Homo sapiens: one gene and its partners. The protein of the gene in region 1 interacts with the protein of each later gene in a biochemical or structural test. Each region holds a gene or a part of one and is shown on either strand. Other genes may lie near its edges.

Region 1 (7,035 bases):
GTCTGCAGGTGTGGATCCTGACTTCTGTGAGAAGTAGCTCACCTTGACAAAGCTGCCTTTGCTTTTATTGCTTTGTAAAACAAAGAAGGGGGACGTGTTGGGAATAGGCCTCAAAAATCTGGCCATAAACTGGCCCCAAAACTGGCCATAAACAAAATCTCTGCAGCACTGTGACATGCTTGTGATGGCCTTGATGCCCATGCTGGAAGGTTGTGGGTTTACTGGAATGAGGGCAAGGAACACCTGGCCCACCCAGGGCGGAAAACTGCTTAAGGTGTTCTTAAACCACAAACAATAGCATGAGAGATCCGTGCCTTAAGGACATGTTCATGCTGCAGATAACTAGCCAGAGCCCGTCCCTTTATTTCGGCCCATCCCTTTATTTCCCATAAGGAATACTTTTAGTAAACCTTATGATTGGCTTGCTGTCAATAAATATGTGGGTAAATCTCTGTTCAAGGCTCTCAGCTCTGAAGGCTGTGAGACCCCTGATTTCCCACTCCACACTATATTTCTGTGTGTGTGTGTCTTTAATTCCTCTAGCGCCACTGGGTTAGGGTCTCCACAACTGAGCTGGTCTCGGCAAGATTAATATCCAGAATATATATAAAGAACCTCTGGCCAGGCACAGTGGCTCATGCCTGTAATCCCAGCATTTTGGGAGACCAAGATGGGTAGACTGTCTGAGCTCAGGAGTTCAGAGACCAGCCTGGGTGACATAGCAAAACCCCATCTCCACCAAAAACACAAAAAATTAGCCAGGTGTGATGGTGCGCACCCATAGTCCCAGTTACTTGGGAGGCTGAGGTGGGAGGATCCTTGAGCCCGGGAGATAGAGGTTGCAGTGAGCCGAGATTGCACCACGGCACTCCATCCTGGGTGACAGAGTGAGACCGCATCTCATAAATAAATACAAAAAAACCTCAACAACAACAAAACAATCAAACTTAAAAATGGGAAAAGTATTTTATATTTCTCCAAAGAAGATATATAAATGGTCAGTAAGCACATAAAAATATGCTCAATATTTTTAGTCATTAGGAATGACATGAAAACTATTTTCATTTGAAAATAAAAATCAAAACCACAATGAGATAACATTTTAGGCCTACTCGGATGTCTATAATTAAAAAAAAGAAAAGAAAGAGAAGAACAAGTGGTGATCAGCATGTGGACAAATTGGAACCCTGGTGCATACTGGTGGGAATATAAAATGGTGCAGTCTCTGTGGAAATGTTTGGTGATTTCTCAAAAGGTTAAACATAAAACTGCTATATGACCCAGCAATTCTATTCCTAGGTATATATCCAAAAGAATTAAAAACAGGAACTTGAACAGATATTTGTGTATCAATGTTCACAGCAGCATTATTCACAATAGCCAAAAGGTGGAAACAAGGCAAGTGTCCATCAACAGATGAATGGTTAAACGAAAGTGTTATATACATACAACGGAATATCACTCAGCCATAAACAGGAATGAAATTTTGATATATGCTGTGACATGAATGGACCTTGAAAACATTATGCTTGGTGAATAAGCTAGGGAAAGTAATGACAGATATTGTATGATTCTACTTATATGAGGTACCTAGAGTAAGCAAATTCATAGAAAAAGAAAGTAGAATAGAGGTTGCCAGGGACTGGGGGGAGAGAGAAAGAGGAAGTTATCATTTAATAGGTACAGAGTTTTAATGGGTAATGATGAGGAAGCTTTGGGTATAGTATAGATAGAGGTGACGGTTACAAAATATTGCAAATATATTTAATTTCACAGAATTGTACACTTAAGAATGGCTAAAATAATAATAAATGTTGGCTGGGCGCGGTGGCTCACGCCTGTAATCCCAGCACTTTGGGAGGCCAAGGCGGGCAGATCACGAAGTCAAGAGTTCGAGACAAGCCTGGCCAATATGGTGAAACCCTGTCTCTACTAAGAATACAAAAATTAGCCAGGCGTGGTGGCACGTGCCTGTAATCCCAGCTACTTGGGAGGCTGAGGCAGGAGAATTGCTTGAACCCGGGAGGCAGAGGTTGCAGTGAGCTGAGATTGCATCACTGTACTCCAGCCTGGACGACAGAGCAAGACTCCATCTCGAAATAATAATAATAATAATAAATGTTATGTATATTTTACCACAGTAAGAATGTTACTCGTTGATTTACATATGACCCAGTTATCTACTCCTAGCTACATACCCACAAGAAATGAAAACATGTTCAAACAAAAACTTGTCCGTGCGTGTTCACAGCAGCATTATTCACAATACCCAAAATGTGGAAATAACTCAAAGATTCATCAACTGATGACTGGATAAACAAATGTGGTATGGCCATGCAATAAAATATTATTTGGCAAATTAAAACTGGGAAATTCTAATAAGAATAATAGACTGCATCAATGCCAATATTCTCATTGTCCTCTCAATAAAGATGTTTTAAAAGTTTCTTGTGAAGAATACTATTTAAGGGCTTTTGGGGTGGGGTGGCAGAAGATAAGGTGAAGCTTTGGAAAACTTTAGGTATCAATTAACCATGCTTTTTCTGTCCCTCATTAGAATTAAATAGTGAACCACATCTATCTCATCCAGCACGATGAATTTCGGTACATCTTTTACTAAATTTCAGGGTAGGATAAAGATAACAAAGTGTGAAATTCATATATTATTTTAAGTCATCTTACCAGTGAGTAGCTCTATCCATGTTTGGACAGTTTCTGTGGGTTCAGTTGCTTTGATGTGTTTCAGAGTTTCATCCAGTAAAACATCACCTGTTGGGCTGTCTGACTTTAGCAGTACCTTTGAGAAAAGGAGAAAGAAGGAACCCTGATTCCTTCACTTCATTCAAGTTAAAATCTTTCAATATATCATGTATATGTTACTGGTTAAAAATTGCAAGAATGTAAGGAAGCATAATATACTGTCTCTGTCCTCAAGAAGTTTAAAATATAGTATGGAGTGATAGTGCAAAGACAAAAATAACATTTGAAGTGGGCCCTAGTGACAAACTGGATATGAATGATAATGGAGAAAAGTTTCAATAACAACTCATTTTGAGTCTGGAAACCAACTTTTGAAACCATTAATAAAGGTAGGAAACAGCTGGGCTCAGTGGCTCATGCCTGTAATCTTAGCACTTTGGGAGGCTGAGGCGGGTGGATCACCTGAGCTCAGGAGTTTGAGACCAGCCTGGGCAAAATGGCAAAATCTTTTCTCTATTAAAAAAATAAAAATTTAAATAAATAAATAAATAAATAAACAAAGGCAGGAAAGTCAGAAAAGGAAGTCAGTTTTGGGGAAAGGTTGATAATTTGGTTTTCTTTCATTTTTGTTAAGTTTGGTTTTAAATGATATGGGATAGCCAAGTTGAAATTTCTAGCCAATAGTTAAATATGTTTCTGGAGGTGGAAAAACAAGACCTGCCTAGAAATTTGAAAATTAATCTCATGAAGGTGACAGACGAAGCTATAAAGGTAAATGATATCTCTGAAAGGACAGAAGATCACTCAAGTGATACAAACTGAGACTTGGATGTTAAGAAATGGAGAAGTAAGGAAACAGTGTATAGTCAGAGAAGCAAGAGAATAAGATAATAACAAAGGCCAATAATGAAGAAAGTTTCAAAGTGATAAAAAGTGTCAAATGACACATATAGGTTAAAAGAGAAAAATAAATCAAAGACTGAAAAGAAGCTGGTGATACCTAAGAATGTAGTTTAAGTGGAGTGCTTAGGATGATAAAGAAGTTGTGAGTGGAAAAATTCAGTAAGAAAATGGATACAGGAGTATGGTTGGAAAGGACTTGCAGTAAATGGAAGGAAACAGAATATTATTGGAGAATAACCAGGGTTAATCAATGACTGACCTGACCCATATGAGTCCCTCTCCCTACATCATACTCTATTTCGTAATTTTTTTTTTTTAGAGACGGAGTCTTGCACTGTCCCCCAGGCTGGAGTGCAGTGGCGGGATCTTGGCTCACTGCAAGCTCCACCTTCCGGGTTCACGCCATTCTCCTGCTTCAGCCTCCCGAGTAGCTGTGACTACAGGCGCCCGCCACAATGCCCCGCTAATTTTTTTTTTAAATATTTCTCGTAGAGATGGGATTTCACCGTGTTAGCCAGGATGGTCTCAATCGCCTGACCTCATGATCCGCCCGCCTCGGCCTCTCAAAGTGCTGGGATTACAAGCGTGAGCCACTGTGCCCGGCTATTTCATAATGTTATAGCTATAGATATAGGAGGAATTTAATCAACAGCATCCTGAGTATGATTTTTCTGCATAAAAAAGGAAGACAAAACCAGGAGCTTCCTATAACTCTTTGGACTATGGATACTTTGATTTCTCCCTCTTGCAATAGGGTAATTAACCTGTTTAGACAATGGAACTGCTGAGTCAGTGATATTTATTTTATCTTACTACTCAAATCTTTCTATTCTTCCCAAATGTACTGTTGGTATTTGCCTTTCCATAAGCCATGGACGTTCACAGAGGATTCAGTACCTTTCTGTCTAGTAGTCGCTTCTTACGCATGGTCGGGGGTTCCAGATAGATTCGACCCCGCATGGCCAGCTCTATCAGGATGCCCCCTCGCAGGCCTGATGATATGCAGTCATTCCAGAAAGATGTGTACCCCTAGGAAAGGAGAAAAGAGAAGAGAAAGAATGTTTTGAGAGGAATACTGACTTCCAGCAGGCACCCTAAGAACAGGCCGCTTTGTTGTGATTCGTTTCACATCATACTACATGAACTCAAAGTATAGAGTAAGAGGATGTTTCTTTAATCCTCTTAAACACCCCCAAATATGATTTTCTGTCTGACTTCAAGATCTTTAGTGAATTTCCATGGTTTGCTGTTAGTCAATAAATGATGTGCAATTTTTTTTTTTGAGACAGGGTCTCGCTTTTTCCCCCAGGCTGAAATGCAGTGGCATGATCATGGCTCACTGCAGCCTTGACCTCCTGGGCTCAAGCAATCCTTCCACCTCAGCCTCCTGAGTAGCTGGGACTACAGGTATGTGCCACCATGCCTGGCTGTTTTTAAAAAAAATTTTTTTGTAGAGACAAGGTCTTGCTATGTTGCCTACGCTGGTCTCGAACTCCTGGCCTCAAGCTATCCTCCCACCTTGGCCTCCGAAAGTGTTGGGATTACAGACATGAGTGACTGCACCTGGTTTGACATGCAAAATTTTAATTTTTGAGGAGAATTTTGGCTTTTTTGAAGTCTGTTTCCATGACACAAAATTTCAGAGTGGGGTAAAATAAGTCAGAAAAAAGTAAAAAGCATTTGAGCTTTTAATCCTCCTAGATATGTATTAATTTGAAGTTCTTTTTTCTTTTTTTTGAGATGGAGGCTTGCTCTGTCGCCCAGGCTGGAGTGCAGTGACGTGATCTTGGCTCACTGCAACCTCCGCCTCCCAGGTTCAAGCGATTCTCCTGCCTCAGCCTCCTGAGTAGCTGGGATTACAGGTGTGCACTGCCACACCCAGCTAATTTTTGTATTTTTAGTAGAGACGGGATTTCACTATGTTGGTCAAGCTGGTCTCAAACTCCTGACCTCGTCATCCACCAGCCTCAGTCTCCCAAAGTGCTGGGAATACAGGAGTGAGCCACCGTGCCCAGCCAATTTGAAGTTCTTTTGATGGGAGGTATAATAGAAACCCACTGTCATTAAGTGCCTTGGTTATGTTACTTAAACTTTCTGAAGTACATTGTCCTCATCTATAAAATGCAGACACCAATATATATTTTCATAAGATTGTTATGAGGGTTACATGAGATACAATATATAAGAAAGCATTTAGTATAGTGCCTGGCATATAGCAGGCACTTAAAATGTTAGCTCCCCTTCCCTTTGTATAGGGAATATACGTATAAGAGAGCCACTGGTATTGTCTAACAGCAGTAACGTTTAATTACTAATGTCTATTGAATACTTATTATATACTAGATATGTGCTAATACTTATTATGTACTAGATTTGTGCTAAGCTTTTTACATGCATTATCTGATTATATCTTCACAACAACCCTATAAAGGAAGTACTACTACTACCCACACATTAAAGATGAGAAAACTAAGGCTTACAGAGGTTATACAGCATAACAGAGGTCACGAAGCTAAATAGAGAAATTTTTAAGTGGTTGTTTTTTTGGTGGTGTTTTACTGATAGATCATAGTTGTGCATATTTTGGGGTTACTTTTTTTTTTTAAGAGACAGGCGGGGTCTTGCTCCATTATCCAGGCTGAAATGCAGTGGGGCCATCATAGCTCACTGTAGACTTGAACTCCAGGGCTCAAACAATTGTCCTGCCTCAGCCTCCCAAGTAGCTCAGACTACAGGCATGAGACACTGCACCTAGCTATAATAACTATTTAAAAAATTTTTTAATTCAATTTTCCTCTTTATTGGCTTGGAAGTTATGTACTTTTAGAAGTTATCCTTGAAATTTTAACATGCATGATACATTAATTTAAAATTAACATAAAACCTAAATTTTAAATATTAATATTTTAACCACTCTTTTAGTTGTCCAGTATTTTTTTTTAGCCTCATAAATTAGATATCATCATCATCATTATTATTTTATACAGGTAGCACTTGTTTAGATTTACACAGGTGCTTACGAATTTCTTTGCTCACCGTTCCTTCCTGTATCTCAGACTTCCTTTCTGGCACCATTTTTCTTCTTCCTAAAGTAGAATTTCCTTAAGTGAAAGTCTGTTGGAGGCAGTTTCTATTTTGCTTATCTGAAATGTCTTTGTATTTCACCATCATCCTTGAAAGATAGTTTCTCTGGACATAAAATTCCAGGTTGATCATTCCAGGTTATCACATTGAAGATAGTATGCCCTCTTCTTCCAGCTTCTAATATAGCAGTGAGAAATCTATCTTTCTTATTGATTGTGGTTTTTTTGTAGGTGGTGTATCTTTTCTTTGGTCCTTTAAGATCTTCTCTTTTGGTGTTTTGCAGTTTTACTATAACATGACTGTGCATGAATTTATTTATTCTGTTTGGTATATGTTGTGCTTCCCATA
Region 2 (7,035 bases), on another chromosome or scaffold:
CCTTGTAGGCTGGGCCTGTGGTACCATTTGGAATTGTGCAGTCCACAACCTGATCAACCATACCCAGCCATCTCAGGTGGCAATAGTGGTGTGTAGTGGTGGTTGTTGTTGCTTATTGTTATATTTACTTTTCCTGGAGTCCAAGGTCCCTAGGCCAAGAGGAGGGGAGAGGCCTGGTTGGCATAAACCAGGGGCTCCCTAAGGCAGCGGCGCCTTAGCTCAGACTTCAGCTCACACCTCTCTGCCTAAGAAGTGAGCCAGTTCATTCCCTGTAGGAGTAGATAAGTTGAGACTCCAGCTGTGGTATCTTGAGCTGAAGCAGCCTCCCCTGCATTCCAGAGTCCTTCTCCCAAATGTCACTGTCCAGTGCTCTTGGGAGCCTAAACCCTCACTCTGCCTCTTTGAAGGCTTGGCCCCTCTCCACAGTGCCCATCCCTGATGCAATATCTCCTTTGCCTCTCCAGGGCTCTGCCAGCAGACAGCCTTGGCACACAGGCACAAGGGCTGGAGCCCAGAGATGAGAGTGCCCAAGGGAGGTAAGTGCACCTAGAAGGAACTTCCCCTGGAGTCCTGGCCCCTCCTGAGACCGCCCTCCAAAAGTCCCCTCCATGCCCCCAGCCTCCATGATTGGGTGCCTGGGCAAACTCCCCTGGCTGGTTTTCACCTTTCTGTTCAGCCAGCAGGTTGGAAATCTGGTACTAGAAAAAGCTGCATCCCAGCAAGCATCATAGAGAGATGAGCATCTTCCTTGTCTATTAGGAAGACGATTCTCCAGGTGATAGGAGAGAGAAGGCTGAGTCCCAAAGTGGGCGGGGGACTTGCCCAGTGTCACGGAGCAGATTCAAGCCAGAACCCAAACGCTGTTGTGTCCCGTTCTCCTAATGTTAGTGTTTTAGGTATGCTTTCTCAGTACCCCACAGGAGTTCCTTGGCCTTCTGAATAGCTTCCTTGAGAAAAGGGTATTATTATTCCTTTTTTGGAGAAGAAAGTAGAAGCTCAGAGAAGTGATACCTTTTGTCCAGATCACCAGCTGGCAAGTGGCAGCAGAAGTGAGATTTGAACCTTGGAGTGTAGTACTCCAAGTTAGAAGCCCTCACCTATCATCCTCACTGCGAGGATGCCAGGATACCTCCCTTGCCAGGGTCCAGCAGGGTGATGAGGGTGTTGGGCAGGCCTAGTTCCCTGGGCTGGGCCCTCTAGCTCCTTCCACAGTGGGGTCCCTAGCTCTGGGTAACCAGGAAGCTACTTTCTGCTTTGTGGGTTCCAGGCTGCTTTCTGTGTCCCAAGTCACCCTGCTTTTTCTTCTTAAGCCATCGTGCAGGTCATTGCTGTCTTCTGCTCACTTCTGACTTGCCTGCTTTGAGCTGTTTTCTTCAGCCTTGGCCTGGTCTGATCCAGGATTCCTGCCCTGGCCATGCAACCTTGGGCAAGCTGCTTCATCTCTTTGAGCTTAGATACTGCAGGGAAAATGCTTTAGCAGAGTTTATGCTCCATAATTTCGAACACCTTTGCTGAACATAAAATGCTGAAGCTGGCCGGGTGCGGTGGCTCACACCTGTAATCCCAGCACTTTGGGAGGCTGAGGCGGGCAGATCACCTTAGGTCAGGAGTTCGAGACCAGCCTGGCTAACATGGTGAAACCCCATCTCTACTAAAAACACACAAAAAAATCAGCCAAGGTGGGGATGCTGTCACTGAAATCCTAATAACTGACAGGATTCTGGTCACAGGTCTCAGGGGAGAATTTCACTGAGCACCTGATGAAGACAAAGGGTCGTTGCAGGGATTTCGGAATGGCTTCATGTCCTGTTCAGCCTGCCTCCCCGCAGGAAGTAGCTCTGAATTAGCTTTCTCCATCACAGACCCTGAATCGAGGGTACAAATGAAGCCCCAACCTCTTCAGCAGAACTTCATCAGCACGTTTTTCTGAAGAGAGGGAAATTATCCAATGCACAGAGAGGCCGGTGACCCCAGCCTGAGATCCATCTCTGGTTTGTCAGCTGCTTCTCATATTTTCACAGCAGCCTCTGAGGTCAGTGGATCCACCCTGATTTTGCAGCTGAAGAGACTGTGGCTAAGATGAGGGAAGTGACTCTCCCAAGCCACATGGCCAGGAAGTCCTAGCCTCTTAGCAGTTTCCACCCCAGGCCTGAGACTGTGTTCCCTCCGCTTTGATGTTTATTTTCCACTTGCTATAGCCTAAGAAGGCCCAGGCAGCCCAAGCCCTTGCAGGTGGATAGGCCCAGCTGCAGACTGGGCCCTTGGGTGGTTTTGGGTGGAACCTCACATCCAAAGAGGCATGCTGTCTTCCCACTGGCTTCCACCAAACCCTCCGTTCACTAAGTCACTTGCAGTTCCCCAGTCGTGCTGCATCCTTTCCTGCCTGTGGCTCTGCGCTGGCTATTCCCTTTGCTGGTAACATCCTTGTTTCCCTTCTCCACCTGCCTGTTTCCTACCCACCACTGAAAATTCTGCATGAAGGCTACCTCCTGCAGGAGGCCTTCCCTCACCTACGCAGGTAGAACCCATCAATCTCTCTCAGGCACAGGTCCATGGTAAGAGTAGACTTTGGAGGCTGAGGCTCCCAGCACATAGCAGGTGCTCATTAAATGTTGGAATAAGTAAATAACCAATGATTATGATAGAAATCACTAATATTCTTGGGCCAGATGGGGTAACTCATGCCTGTAATCCCATCATTTTGGGAGGCTGAGGCGGGAGGATCACTTGAAGCGAGACCCTGTTTCTAAAAATTAGCCAGGTGCGGTGGTGTGTGCCTGTAGTCCCAGGTACTTGGGAGGCTGAGGCAGAGGATTGCTTGAGCCCAGGAGTCCGAGGCCGCAGTGAGCTATGATCTCTCACCACTCAATGCACTCCAGCCTTTTTTTTTTTTTTTTTTAGACGGAGTCTCGCTCTGTCGCCCACGCTGGAGTGCAGTGGCGCAGTCTAGGCTCACTGCAAGCTCTGCCTCCCAGGTTCACGCCATTCTCCTGCCGCAGCCTCCCGAGTAGCTGGGACTACAGGCGCCCGCCACCATGCCCAGCTAATTTTTTGTATTTTAGTAGAGATGGGATATCACCGTGTTAGCCAGGATGGTCTCGATCTCCTGACCTCATGATCCGCTGGACCGGGTGGCTCATGCCTGTAATCCCATCACTTTGGGAGACAGGTAGGAGGATCACCCAGGCCCACGAGTTCAAGAGCAGCCTGGGAAACATGGTGAGACCCCATCTCTTTAAAAAAACAAAAAAAATTGAAAAAAGTGCCCAGCAGGGTGCCAGGCACACAGCTAGTGCTTATGAAAGGTGCCCTCTGCATTCATGTCAGCAGCCTCTTGTTTGCAGTTATAGGGCTTTGCAGTTATTGGAGAGCTCACAGCTCACAGACCTCCCTGACTATGCATGTCCCCCTCTCTCCCCAGATGTGAGCCTGGCGGGCTGCCCGCTAACCTGTCGCTGAAGCCCCAGAAGCGGGCCCTCAGGCCAGGCCTACCCTGCCTCCGGCCCAGCATGCGCCTGTCGGTGCGGAGGGTGCTGCTGGCAGCCGGCTGCGCCCTGGTCCTGGTGCTGGCGGTTCAGCTGGGACAGCAGGTGCTAGAGTGCCGGGCGGTGCTGGCGGGCCTGCGGAGCCCCCGGGGGGCCATGCGGCCTGAGCAGGAGGAGCTGGTGATGGTGGGCACCAACCACGTGGAATACCGCTATGGCAAGGCCATGCCGCTCATCTTCGTGGGTGGCGTGCCTCGCAGTGGCACCACGTTGATGCGCGCCATGCTGGACGCGCACCCCGAGGTGCGCTGCGGCGAGGAGACCCGCATCATCCCGCGCGTGCTGGCCATGCGCCAGGCCTGGTCCAAGTCTGGCCGTGAGAAGCTGCGGCTGGATGAGGCGGGGGTGACGGATGAGGTGCTGGACGCCGCCATGCAGGCCTTCATCCTGGAGGTGATTGCCAAGCACGGAGAGCCGGCCCGCGTGCTCTGCAACAAGGACCCATTTACGCTCAAGTCCTCGGTCTACCTGTCGCGCCTGTTCCCCAACTCCAAGTTCCTGCTGATGGTGCGGGACGGCCGGGCCTCCGTGCACTCCATGATCACGCGCAAAGTCACCATTGCGGGCTTTGACCTCAGCAGCTACCGTGACTGCCTCACCAAGTGGAACAAGGCCATCGAGGTGATGTACGCCCAGTGCATGGAGGTAGGCAAGGAGAAGTGCCTGCCTGTGTACTACGAGCAGCTGGTGCTGCACCCCAGGCGCTCACTCAAGCTCATCCTCGACTTCCTCGGCATCGCCTGGAGCGACGCTGTCCTCCACCATGAAGACCTCATTGGCAAGCCCGGTGGTGTCTCCCTGTCCAAGTGAGTGGAGCCCCTGATGCTTCCACTCAGACTCTGGCCCTGGAGTCAGAGGCGCCAGGCAAGAAAATCAGCACTGCCTTTCTTGAGCTGTGTGGCCTTGGGCAAGTCACTATATCTCTCTGAGCCTCCGTTTCATTATCCCAAAAAATGACAACAATTACTCCTCTCCTTTCTGAGAGAATCTGCAAACTTCGTGGGCTGTTTGTTTGTTTTTTGAGGCAGTGTCTCGGTCTGTTGCCCGGCTGGAGTAACAGCCGCCACCTCCCTGTTCAAGTGATCCTCCCACCTCATCTTCCTGAGTAGCTGGGACTATAGGCATGCGCCACCAAGCTGGGCTAATTTTTGTATTTTTGGTAGAGATGGGGTTTGCCCTGTTGCCCAGGCTGGTCTCAAACTCCTGGCCTCAAGCAGTTCTTCCACCTCAGCCTCCCAGAGTCCTGGGATTACAGGCATGAGCCACCACACCCAGCCTAGAATCTGCAAACTTTGAATATGCTTTGTAGTAAGGCAATAGTGGGTAAAGGTTAAGAGCACAGATTCCAGAACAAGGATGTCTGGGTTCAAACCTCAGCTCTGCCACTTCTTAGCTGTGTGACCCTGGGCAAAGCGACTCAACCCCTGTGCTTCCATTGCTTCATCTGTAACATGGAAATATAATTTGCCTACCTTATAGATACCTGTGGGCATCAAATAGGTTAATAAATGTTAGGTGCTATTATTACTATTTTAGTGTTGATACTGCTTTTATTGATGGAGTACCCATCCTCACCATTGTCATTTAATGAGTGCCTACTGTATGGCAAGTATTGGGTTAAGCCCCCAACAAGTTTATCTCCTTTAATCCTCACAGCAACCTGAGGACATAGGAACACCTCTTATCCACATTTTATAGACCAAAAAACTGAATCTCACAGAGGAGAAGTTACTGGCCTCAGGCTACACAGCTAACAAAGCATGGTGCTGGGATTGGAACCCAGGTCTGTTTTTTGGGGTTTTTCTTGTTTTTGTTTTTGTTTTTTTGAGACAGGGTTTCACTCTGTTGCCCAGGCTGGAGTGCAGTGGCACGATCCCAGCTAACTGCAGCCTCGACCTCTTGGGCTCAAGCAATTCTCCCACCTCAGTCTCCCGAGTAGTTGGGACTACAGGCGAGCATCTCCACACCCAGCTCATTTTTTTTTTTTTTTTCCTAGTAGAGATGAGATCTCAGTATGTCTTCCAGGCTGGTCTCCAACCCCTGAGCTCAAGCCTTCCTCCTGCCTTGGCCTCCCAAAGTGCTGGGATTACAGGCCCCTGGCCTATTGTGTTCTTAAACTCCCCATGTCCAGAACTCCTCCCATCCTCCCCTTCACTCCCCCTCATCCTTTCCTTTCCTTCCTCCCTCTGTCCCTTGCTCCCTGCCTTCTTCCATTGGAAAAGCTGCTGTCCCTATCCTGAGACCCAGAGCACTTTGAACAATGCTGGAGCAGAATATGCAGTTTCCACGCTTTCCCATCCTGATCAGGCTCTGGATAGCCTGAGAGCTCAGTGAAAGGGTGGTCCTTCCCATGGCTGGTCCTTCCCATGGCTGGTCCCTGCTGGGCCCCTTCCCAGGCCCAGAGCAGAGCTAGAGGCTCGCAGCTGCTCTCCGCTAGCAACAAAGTTCCTACATGCCGGGTACCCCAGCCAGTTGGTGCTGGAGCTAGGATTTTATAAATTATTATGACAAAAATATTAGATTACCAAAGTAATACATCTTGACTATAGAAAATTAGAAAAGATACACCAAAGAAGAACGGAGAAACAACCCATGATCTCACCACCCAGATCTTGATGTGTGGCCTACTGCACCATTTTCAGGGCCTGTTGATGAAACTGGAGTCCAACGAAACATACTCCTCTGTAGCCTTTTTCCACGGTGGTGTGGGAGCCCTTGCCAGTGGCAGCCAGCACTCTTTGGTAGCAGCATTTTTGTTGTTGTTTTGTTGTTGAGACGGAGTCTCGCTCTGTCACCCAGGCTGGAGTGTAGTGGTGTGATCTCGGCTCACTGCAACCTCCGCCTCCCGGGTTCAAGCAGTTCTCCCTGCCTCAGCCTCCCAAATAGCTGGGATTACAGGCACCCGCCACCACGCTCTGCTAATTTTTATATTTTTAGTAGAGATGGGGTTTTGCCATGTTGGCCAGGCTGGTCTCGAACTCGTGACCTCAGGTGATCTGCCCGCCTCAGCCTCCCCAAGTGCTGGGATTACAGGCATGAGCCACCGCGCCTGACCTGCAGCATCATTTTGAATAGCTGTGCGACAGGCTGCTACACGGATTGCCATATTCGACTTCACATTCCCTATTGTTGGACACTTCGGTTATTTCCAGTTTTACTGATATGTATCAAGCATTGCCCTCATTCATGTTCTGGGATGTGTCCACCTCATTTCTGCACCATAAAGTCCTAGAGACACAAGGATTTTGGCAAAAGCCATGCACATACTCAAGATTTTTGACATATTGGGTAGAGTTAAGATTTAAATCCAGGTTTGCAGCCTCTGAATCTGTGTTCTACCCACCAGTCCACACCCTTTCACCTTCCCCTGTTCTCCTCACCTCACGCCCGGTCTTGTCTTCCTTTTGCTGCCTCTTTCTGTTCTTTCCCAAGTCACCTCTTAGTTGGGATGAAAACATTTAGAACTAGGCCCTTGATCCTGGGGGTTCCC
Region 3 (7,499 bases), on another chromosome or scaffold:
CCTTAGTGTAAATCAGATGCCAAAGTTTCTCAAATTCAATGCTATGACTACACTTAAAAAGAACTGGCCACATAATGTTCTTAAAATATCAATTCTACTGTTAGTTGTTACTAATACATCACTATTCAAAATTACCTAAAAAAAAAAAATCTTTCGGTAGGGACGCCAGCATTTTAAGTACAGTAAATGTATATTACTAAGACAGCTCCTTGCTAAATTTCTGGGTCTCAGAGAATTTGTCCGGGTATCTACTTCAGCAAAATGCTAACACGATCTCCAAGAACCAACCTTGCTAATACAAACAAGGTTCTCTTTTAAAGATAGCTTAATGAGAAACTTCAGTTCAAGTGTATGTACATCATAAATACAGGCTAAACCTTTAGAGACTGACTAGTTTGGGAACTACTGAATAAAGAAAATTTCTTCAAGGAAAGTTTAACCAGTTTTATGCATCCATTCAGTTAGGTGATACAGCAGTATTTAAAACACACTCTGACTTTAAAATTAACCCAATACACATAGCCTCTGATGTCCTAAAATTTACTAAGACCCACACTAAAGTTTCATCTGAAGCCAAATATTTGTGTTACATTATTTGGCTGAACTAATCAAACGAAGCTGGTTTCTTTTAAAGCTAAAATGGGCAGTGTAGAGCTTGAGAAAAGAAAATAATATAAAGAAATCTGCACTTTCCTATTCATGCATTTTAGAAAAATAAAAAAAAAAAAAACCCTGTACCTCCAGCCCTCAGTGACAGCAACCCAGAAAGAATGTGAAGTATACCAAAATTACTTGTGAACTTTTAAGTCATTTTTTTCTCTTGTCATGGAAAGGAGCACGGTAACTTTTCCTGCAGACAGAAGGAGAAACCACAACCCCACAGTTGTAATCACTGTTCAAGGACACCGCACTGAAGCTGGGTGGGAATGTGCAGAAACAAGCAAATACTCCGAAAGTAAACAGTGTTTTTGTTTTTTGTTCTCTTTTTGATGTCACCAGTAAAGATTCCATCCTATTCCCCTAAAAGGCACATTACTTTTCAAAACAGTCAGACGAGAGCAAACAACGCAACTGGCGAAAGGCAAGAATCTCCTTCCCTGATACTCGCCCTGGCCTAATATTTCATCTCCCTTCAACTAGATTACCAGATGAATAGGGCAGGTCACAGGATCAGGATGAAAACGTCTGTCTGGCCTTAAGCCCTCCCAGCCCCAAGTCCAACGCTGCCTTACTTTTCCTGTTTCTGATTCTAATCCCACCCAAAGCTCGGCTCACAGATTAAACCCACCCCGACCACTGTCCCGTTCTCCGACTTCATCCTCCCCAACTTGTCCTCGAATTAGGTGTCCAAATGACTGCCAGGTAAATGAGCGAAAACAAAGACTCTGAGACCGAAGTTAGGCCAGCCACCAGCGCCAGAAAAGGAAGAGCGAACGCGGTGTAGAACACTTCAGAAGAACTAGGAAAGGTCCAAGGGCTCGTGAACAGTCTGCGCCGCGGACCTGCAAGCCCCGGCAGATAAAAGCAGAAAGGCAGGGTAGAGAGCGGAAGGAAACTCGCAGTAGAGACATTTTGGGGAGTGTTAAGAGACGCACTCCCTCTGGCGTTGAAAGATCCACAGTCAAATCCGAAATGCGCCCGAATCTAGGTAACAAGAGCAGACTCTCCATCAGCGGGGTCGCCCTCGGCCTCCCTGCACAGCCCCGGGGCTCCCCCGGAGACGCCCCTTCCCACGCCTGCAGCCTGGCCCAGCCCGGCCGAGTCCGAACTGGCGGCAAGCGCTGGCTGAGCCACTTCTCCCGACTCTGATTCCCACGCGCGGCCCCTCCCAGGACGCCCCCTGCCCTGGCTCCGCGCCTACCTGTAGCACCAGCGGCTCGGGGTTGAAGGCCAGGGTCAGCAGCAGCTGCATGCGCTCCGAGTCCTTGAGGTTGCGAAGCAGGAAGCTGCCCGAGTCCTTGGTCTCCGCGTAGCGGCGCACCAGGCGGTCGAGAAGGCGCTGCGAGGGGCAGTGCACCAGGTCCGACCAGCCCTCCACCGCCTCGGGCGTGAGCAGACGCACGTCGCCGTTGAGGCGCGCGAACTCGGTCCGGGGCATGGCCTGCAGCAGGTCGCAGCGGGGCCGGCCGGTGGCCCGCTTGCAGATGCTCTGGTCGAGCTGCGCCAGCTCGCGCTGCGAGCCGAGGCGCTTGAGCACCACTCGGCGGCGGCCGCCCTCGCGGGGCTCGCCGTACTGCGCGAAGTACACGTTCTTCACGTTGAGGAAGTCCAGCAGGCGCAAGCGGCCCCACGCCTCGAATACCACCTGCCCGTTGAGGAAGCGGCGGCACCAGCTCGTGCCGAAGCACGCCGGGCACTTATTGAGCTGCAGGAAGCGCCGGTCGGTCAGTTCGTTGCGCTGCCAAGAGGCGAGCAGCGACGGCGAGTGCAGCACCATCAGCACCAACAGGCTGCCCAGCGCCGCCAGCTTCAGCGAGCGGGACAGGCGGCCCAGCTTCGGGGGCACCAGGCGCCACATACCGCCCGCCCGCCCGCAACGGGAGGGCGAGGGCACCCCCGGGGCGCCCCCGCCGCGCCAAGACCCGGAGAGCTACCGGCAGGAACCCCGGGCGAGAGAAGGAGCTAGCGCGCGGGCTGGGGCGGAGGGCGGAGTAGGTGTGTGAGAGAGGAAGACGGGGAGCGGGAAGGCGCGGGCCTGAGCGGGCTGCGACTTCTCCCAGTCACTAGTCTCCACAACTCTCGAGCTCCCTCCTCCTAGCTCCCCGCCCTCCGACTCCGGCGGCGCCTCCTCCACGCCAGCCAAGTTATAGAGGAGCGGGAGGGGGAGGGAGCGCGGGGACCCGACGGTCGCGCGCCCGTGCCCGCGCGCACGCGCACTGCTGGCTTCGCACAAGAGCTGCGGCGGCAGCCAGCCACGACAAGTGGGGTCTGCGAGGAAAGGAGGGACTCACGGAAGGGGAAGAGGAGCTAGGATGTCTCACACCCACAAGCAGCAACGCACGTCTCAGAGCCGCACACCCTTGCTTGTGCGCGCTGGCTCTCCTGAGACCAAGAAGGGGAGCCGGGGGCGGGGCCAGAGGGGCGGAGCGAGCGCGTCGCGCGCCGCCCGGAAAGCGTAAGCGGGAGCTCGCGGGAGCGGGTGTGGGGGCGGTTCAGAGAGGGGGAAGCTCGGGCTCTTGAGGTGGGGGCATGAACTCGCGGTTTCTGGTTTCAGAAAGAGTCTTAATTACAGTCATCTTTTATGATTATTGTGGTTTACTGGTGCGTTCCTTTCACTATTGTGGAAACGGCCCTTTAAGGGAGGAGGGAATAAGAAGAAATGAACTGAGGAAGTCTATTGCAAATCCTTCCCTCTGGACGGCGCGCGAGGCGGAGGCAGAGCTGGCGCGATTGCCTCCCCTCGCCTTATATGGGTTGGGTGCGCGCCTGGGGGGTGGGGCGAGGCCGGGGAGTGCCCGACGGGGGCTTGTGTTCCCCTCAGCTCGTGCTCCTCGCGGTAGGGGGTGGGGCCTGTGAGGAAGACGGTGAGAAAGGCTCGAGTAGTGGCGGGTTTGTTGGAGCTTCATCTTTGGGGTTGTATCTGTAAAATCATTTAAAATTTTCTTGAGTGAGCACAAAATAAAGTTCTCAAGCCACCGTGTTAAAGGGAAAATAGGATGAAGGGGAACCGACGCGGCCTGGTGTCGCCAGGACGTCTGCCCCAAGCGCCGCGAAGAAGCCGGGAAGAGTTTGCCAGGCTTGCCTCTGCTGCCCGCCGGCTGCCCTAGCCCGTCCCCGGAGCCCTGCGGTTCCTCTCCGCAAAGCTGATTTCCCGGTGCCGCCCCTGAGGGTCCCTGAGGAGCGGGCCGCGAAGCGTTGCCCTGGCGGTAGCCATGGGGACCCGGGGCTGCTTGGTGCTCCGCACGGTCACGTTGACTCAGTCACCCCAGACTGCAAAAGTAAGGCGCAGATGCCGCACGAAAGCACTGTGTTTAGGGATAAGTTTCAGGGGACCCGGACTGTTTAGCAGTAGCGCTAGTAGATACATTATTATGCTATTCACTTTTAGTGCTAGAGTAGTTAAAATGAGAAGTGATTTTTAGTCTGAGGGACAGGTGGTTCCTGATACGTTATTAAACAACTGAGTCTTAACTGAGTTAATTTTAGGGCTTGAACAGTGCTTTTAGAAGACCATGGTAACTGGCATGTGTAGATCAACTCTACAGCGGGTTAATAAGAAACATCTATACCAGGTTATCAAAAGTAACAATACTTTCAGTATTGTTTAATTGTAACAGGTATTTGTTACAAATTCTTATAAGAACTCAGATTTTGAAAAAAAAACTTTGAGAAATTTAATAAATTCAAAATAGACGTGATTTTGTAACGATTTGCATTGAATACGGACAGACAAATTGAAATAATATTCAAAGCTTTCTAGAAATTGACTTACTGTACTTAAGTTTGGCTACTTCTGCCTAGTGCCTTATGCCGCCTTTGGTGGGAATTTTATTTAACTTGCTTTCAAATATCCCCAAACTCCATATAATATAGAGTTAAAAGCTCAAGTGAGATTTTCTTAGGAAAAGGAGTTTGGTGTGATGGTTCTGGAGACCTGTGCTGTAGTTCAGCTGTGAGGCTGCTGCTGCTGCTGAATTGTAAACAAAGCAAGTTATTACTTAACTACAAATTTCTTCTTTCTGACATCTTTTCTATATGCCTCATAAATTTGTTCGATTAATAGTAGACAATCTATTTAGAATTGGTTTAAAACAATAAAAGTACTACATAAGTTGCCATTAAACTGATTAAGCTGAGAGAACCGGGGCATAGTGAGACTATTTAGGTAACTAGTAACAGGATTAAGGAGGTACCTGTACTGCTTCTTTGTATCGAATAGGTCTTTGGAGTTCTTAAACTATTCTCAGCCTCCAGATGCTTGGAATTGTATAGGCATCATTTGAAACATGGAAATAAAACACGGTTACTAGTCTACACAATTTGAATTTTGAAAAACATTTGCTCTGCATCTAAGTAGTTTACATTTGTTTAAAAGCTCTGATCTTTTCAGTTAAATTTTCTAGATGTTTATCAGGAGAGATAGTTTTCAAGAACTTAATACATTCATCAAAAGGAAAAAAGTCTTAGAACTATACAAGATAAACATATAGTGTTCCAAAGTGCCATATTAAGGTTTGCAAAATATCTCTTAATTGGGGCCAGGCACGGTGGCTCACCCCCGTAATCCCAGCACTTTGGGAGGCCGAGGCAGGCGGATCACGAGGTCAGGAGATCAAGACCATCCTGGCCAACACGGTGAAACCCTGTCTCTACTAAAAATACAAAAATTAGCCAGGCATGGCGGCGCACGCCTGTAGTCCCACCTACTCGGGAGGCTGAGGCTGGAGAATTGCTTGAACCCAGGAAGCGGAGGCTGCAGTGAGCCGAGATGGCGCCACTGCACTCCAGCCTTGGCGACAGAGCAAAAACTCCGTTTCCAAAAAAAAAAACTCTAAGTGAAGGTTAATGTGCATTACTCACCTTTCCTATAAACTACAGGATGCTTTCAACCAGTGGATCATTTAAAGTTCTTGACCATTATTTTAAGTAATGGCAAATAATGTAATTTCCAGTGCATTGTAAAATGTCATTTTACAGTAACTATCACTGTTTTAAATATTATCAGATGGAATTAAATACCATAGTAGTTTGATACTAACATCCATTTTGATAGTCAAAGTTTTACATTGTATTACTATTCTATTCTCTACTGCAGTGGTTCTCAGCAAGGGACTGTTGCCTCCCAGGGGCCAGTTGGCAATGTCTGGAGACATTTTTGATTTCATAAACTAGGGAGTGGGGTACTACTGTTGTCTAGTGGGAACATGCCAAGGATGCTGCAAAATATCCTACATTGCAAAAGACAACCCCCAACAACAAGAAATTAACCCACTCAACATCTCAATAGTGTGCTGTTGAGAAACCCTGACTAACAAGAATTCTATATAGTACGGTTTTAGGCATAAGCCTTATTGGTTATCCTTTCCTGCAGCAAAAAATATGTGTATACCGTTGTCCCTTGAACAACACAGGTTTGAATTGTACTCATACATAGATTTTTTTCAACCAAATGAGGATCAAAAATATAGTATATGCTGTATATGAAACCCAAGGACAGCTGACTTTTACTGTAAGCAGGTTCTGCAGGACTAGCTGCAGAACTTGTGTATGAGAGGATTTTGGTATACCGGGGGTCCTGGAACCAATCCCAGGTATATACCAACAGACAACTGTATTTAAATTTTGTGTATATCCTGTGATCATAATCTCCTAAATGCTAACATAGGAATTTTTTGTATGATTACAACTATAATTAGTGTTCAGCTGATCAAAATAACAAATATCCCAATTTGAATAAATATAAAAAGTAACATTTTATTGAAATGTATTTCTTAATTAGCTTGGGCATTTTTTTAAAATTAGGTTTCCATGAACAAATATTATTTATTGCTAGAATCAGACGAAGTCTAACATCAGTTTTCTCTCTTCTTCGCTTTTAGAGATGTAAGGGCCAAAACATCTTCATTTATGTTTAAAAATAAAAAGAATGTTTATATAGCAATTTCATTCATTTCTTTTTATTCCTTTTGACTAGAATCATTTACCGATAGTGATCTATCATCAGAATATTCTGAATGACATACCAATTAGGTTTTCCAAGTTAGTTGGATTTAGAAGCAAAGCATTGGAAGCCCATCCTGGAAAATGATTTTTTTACTTGGGTATTAGAATTATTTTATCATATTGACTATATTCAGTGCTCTGGCAGTCATGTCCTGAGACAGTGCACTATAGTAAGATTCAGGGTGGATAAGAGGTATTCGTTTTGTAAAGTCCAAAAAGATAATTTCCTGTATACTAAAGAACCCAGAACAGTGTCTGGTTTAAGTGGTTTGTTCCAGTAGTAGGTGGATTAACAATTGAAGGAATAAACACTTTCAGTATTATTGTAATAATCCAAACTAGAAATGATGGGTATTAGCTGGTTAAAAAAAAAAAAAAAAAAAAGCTAGCACATTCTGGATATATTGTGAACGTAGAGCTAACAAAGTTTACTCAAGATTTTAATGTGAGAGAAAGGCAAGCATCAGGTATTATGGCATGGTTTTTGTCTTAAACTATTGTAAGAATTACCATTTGTCTAAGCCCTTTGGGGCTGCTGGAACAAAAATATCTTAGACTAGTGGCTTATAAACAACAGAAATTTCTTTCTCACAGTTTTGGGGGCAAGTCCATGATCAAAGTGCTTGCAAATTTTGTGTTGGGTGTTTTCCTCATTCATAAATGTTTCTGCTGTGTCTTCGCATGGCAGAAGGGACAAGGGAATCACTCTGGGGTCTCTTTTATAAGAATACAAGTCACCTCCCAAAGGACCCACCTCCAGATACCATCACATTGAGGATTAGGGCTCAACATATGAATTATGGCACAAGGGGGTGGGGGTGCAACTGACACAACCA

The links. The genes of interacting proteins can lie anywhere in the genome.
Region 2: the proteins of GOLPH3L (region 1) and TPST2 form a complex in vitro, tested with the Homo sapiens proteins (one study listed by BioGRID).
Region 3: the proteins of GOLPH3L (region 1) and DIPK2A form a complex in vitro, tested with the Homo sapiens proteins (one study listed by BioGRID).

Annotation. Positions count from the first base shown.
Region 1 is NC_000001.11:150,659,132-150,666,166, forward strand, and holds part of GOLPH3L (Golgi phosphoprotein 3-like), read right to left. Parts: intron 4,633-7,035; coding exon 4,501-4,632; intron 2,798-4,500; coding exon 2,683-2,797; intron 1-2,682. UniProt on the Homo sapiens protein: Phosphatidylinositol-4-phosphate-binding protein that may antagonize the action of GOLPH3 which is required for the process of vesicle budding at the Golgi and anterograde transport to the plasma membrane.
Region 2 is NC_000022.11:26,538,105-26,545,139, reverse strand, and holds part of TPST2 (protein-tyrosine sulfotransferase 2), read left to right. Parts: intron 1-464; coding exon of another isoform or gene 465-536; intron 537-3,421; coding exon of another isoform or gene 3,422-3,509; coding exon 3,510-4,351; intron 4,352-7,035. UniProt on the Homo sapiens protein: Catalyzes the O-sulfation of tyrosine residues within acidic motifs of polypeptides, using 3'-phosphoadenylyl sulfate (PAPS) as cosubstrate.
Region 3 is NC_000003.12:143,967,352-143,974,850, reverse strand, and holds the start of DIPK2A (divergent protein kinase domain 2A isoform a precursor), read right to left. Parts: upstream 3,029-7,499; 5' UTR 2,519-3,028; coding exon 1,862-2,518; intron 1,771-1,861; exon of another isoform or gene 1,319-1,770; coding exon of another isoform or gene 1,289-1,318; intron 1-1,288. UniProt on the Homo sapiens protein: May play a role in cardiomyocyte proliferation through paracrine signaling and activation of the PPI3K-AKT-CDK7 signaling cascade.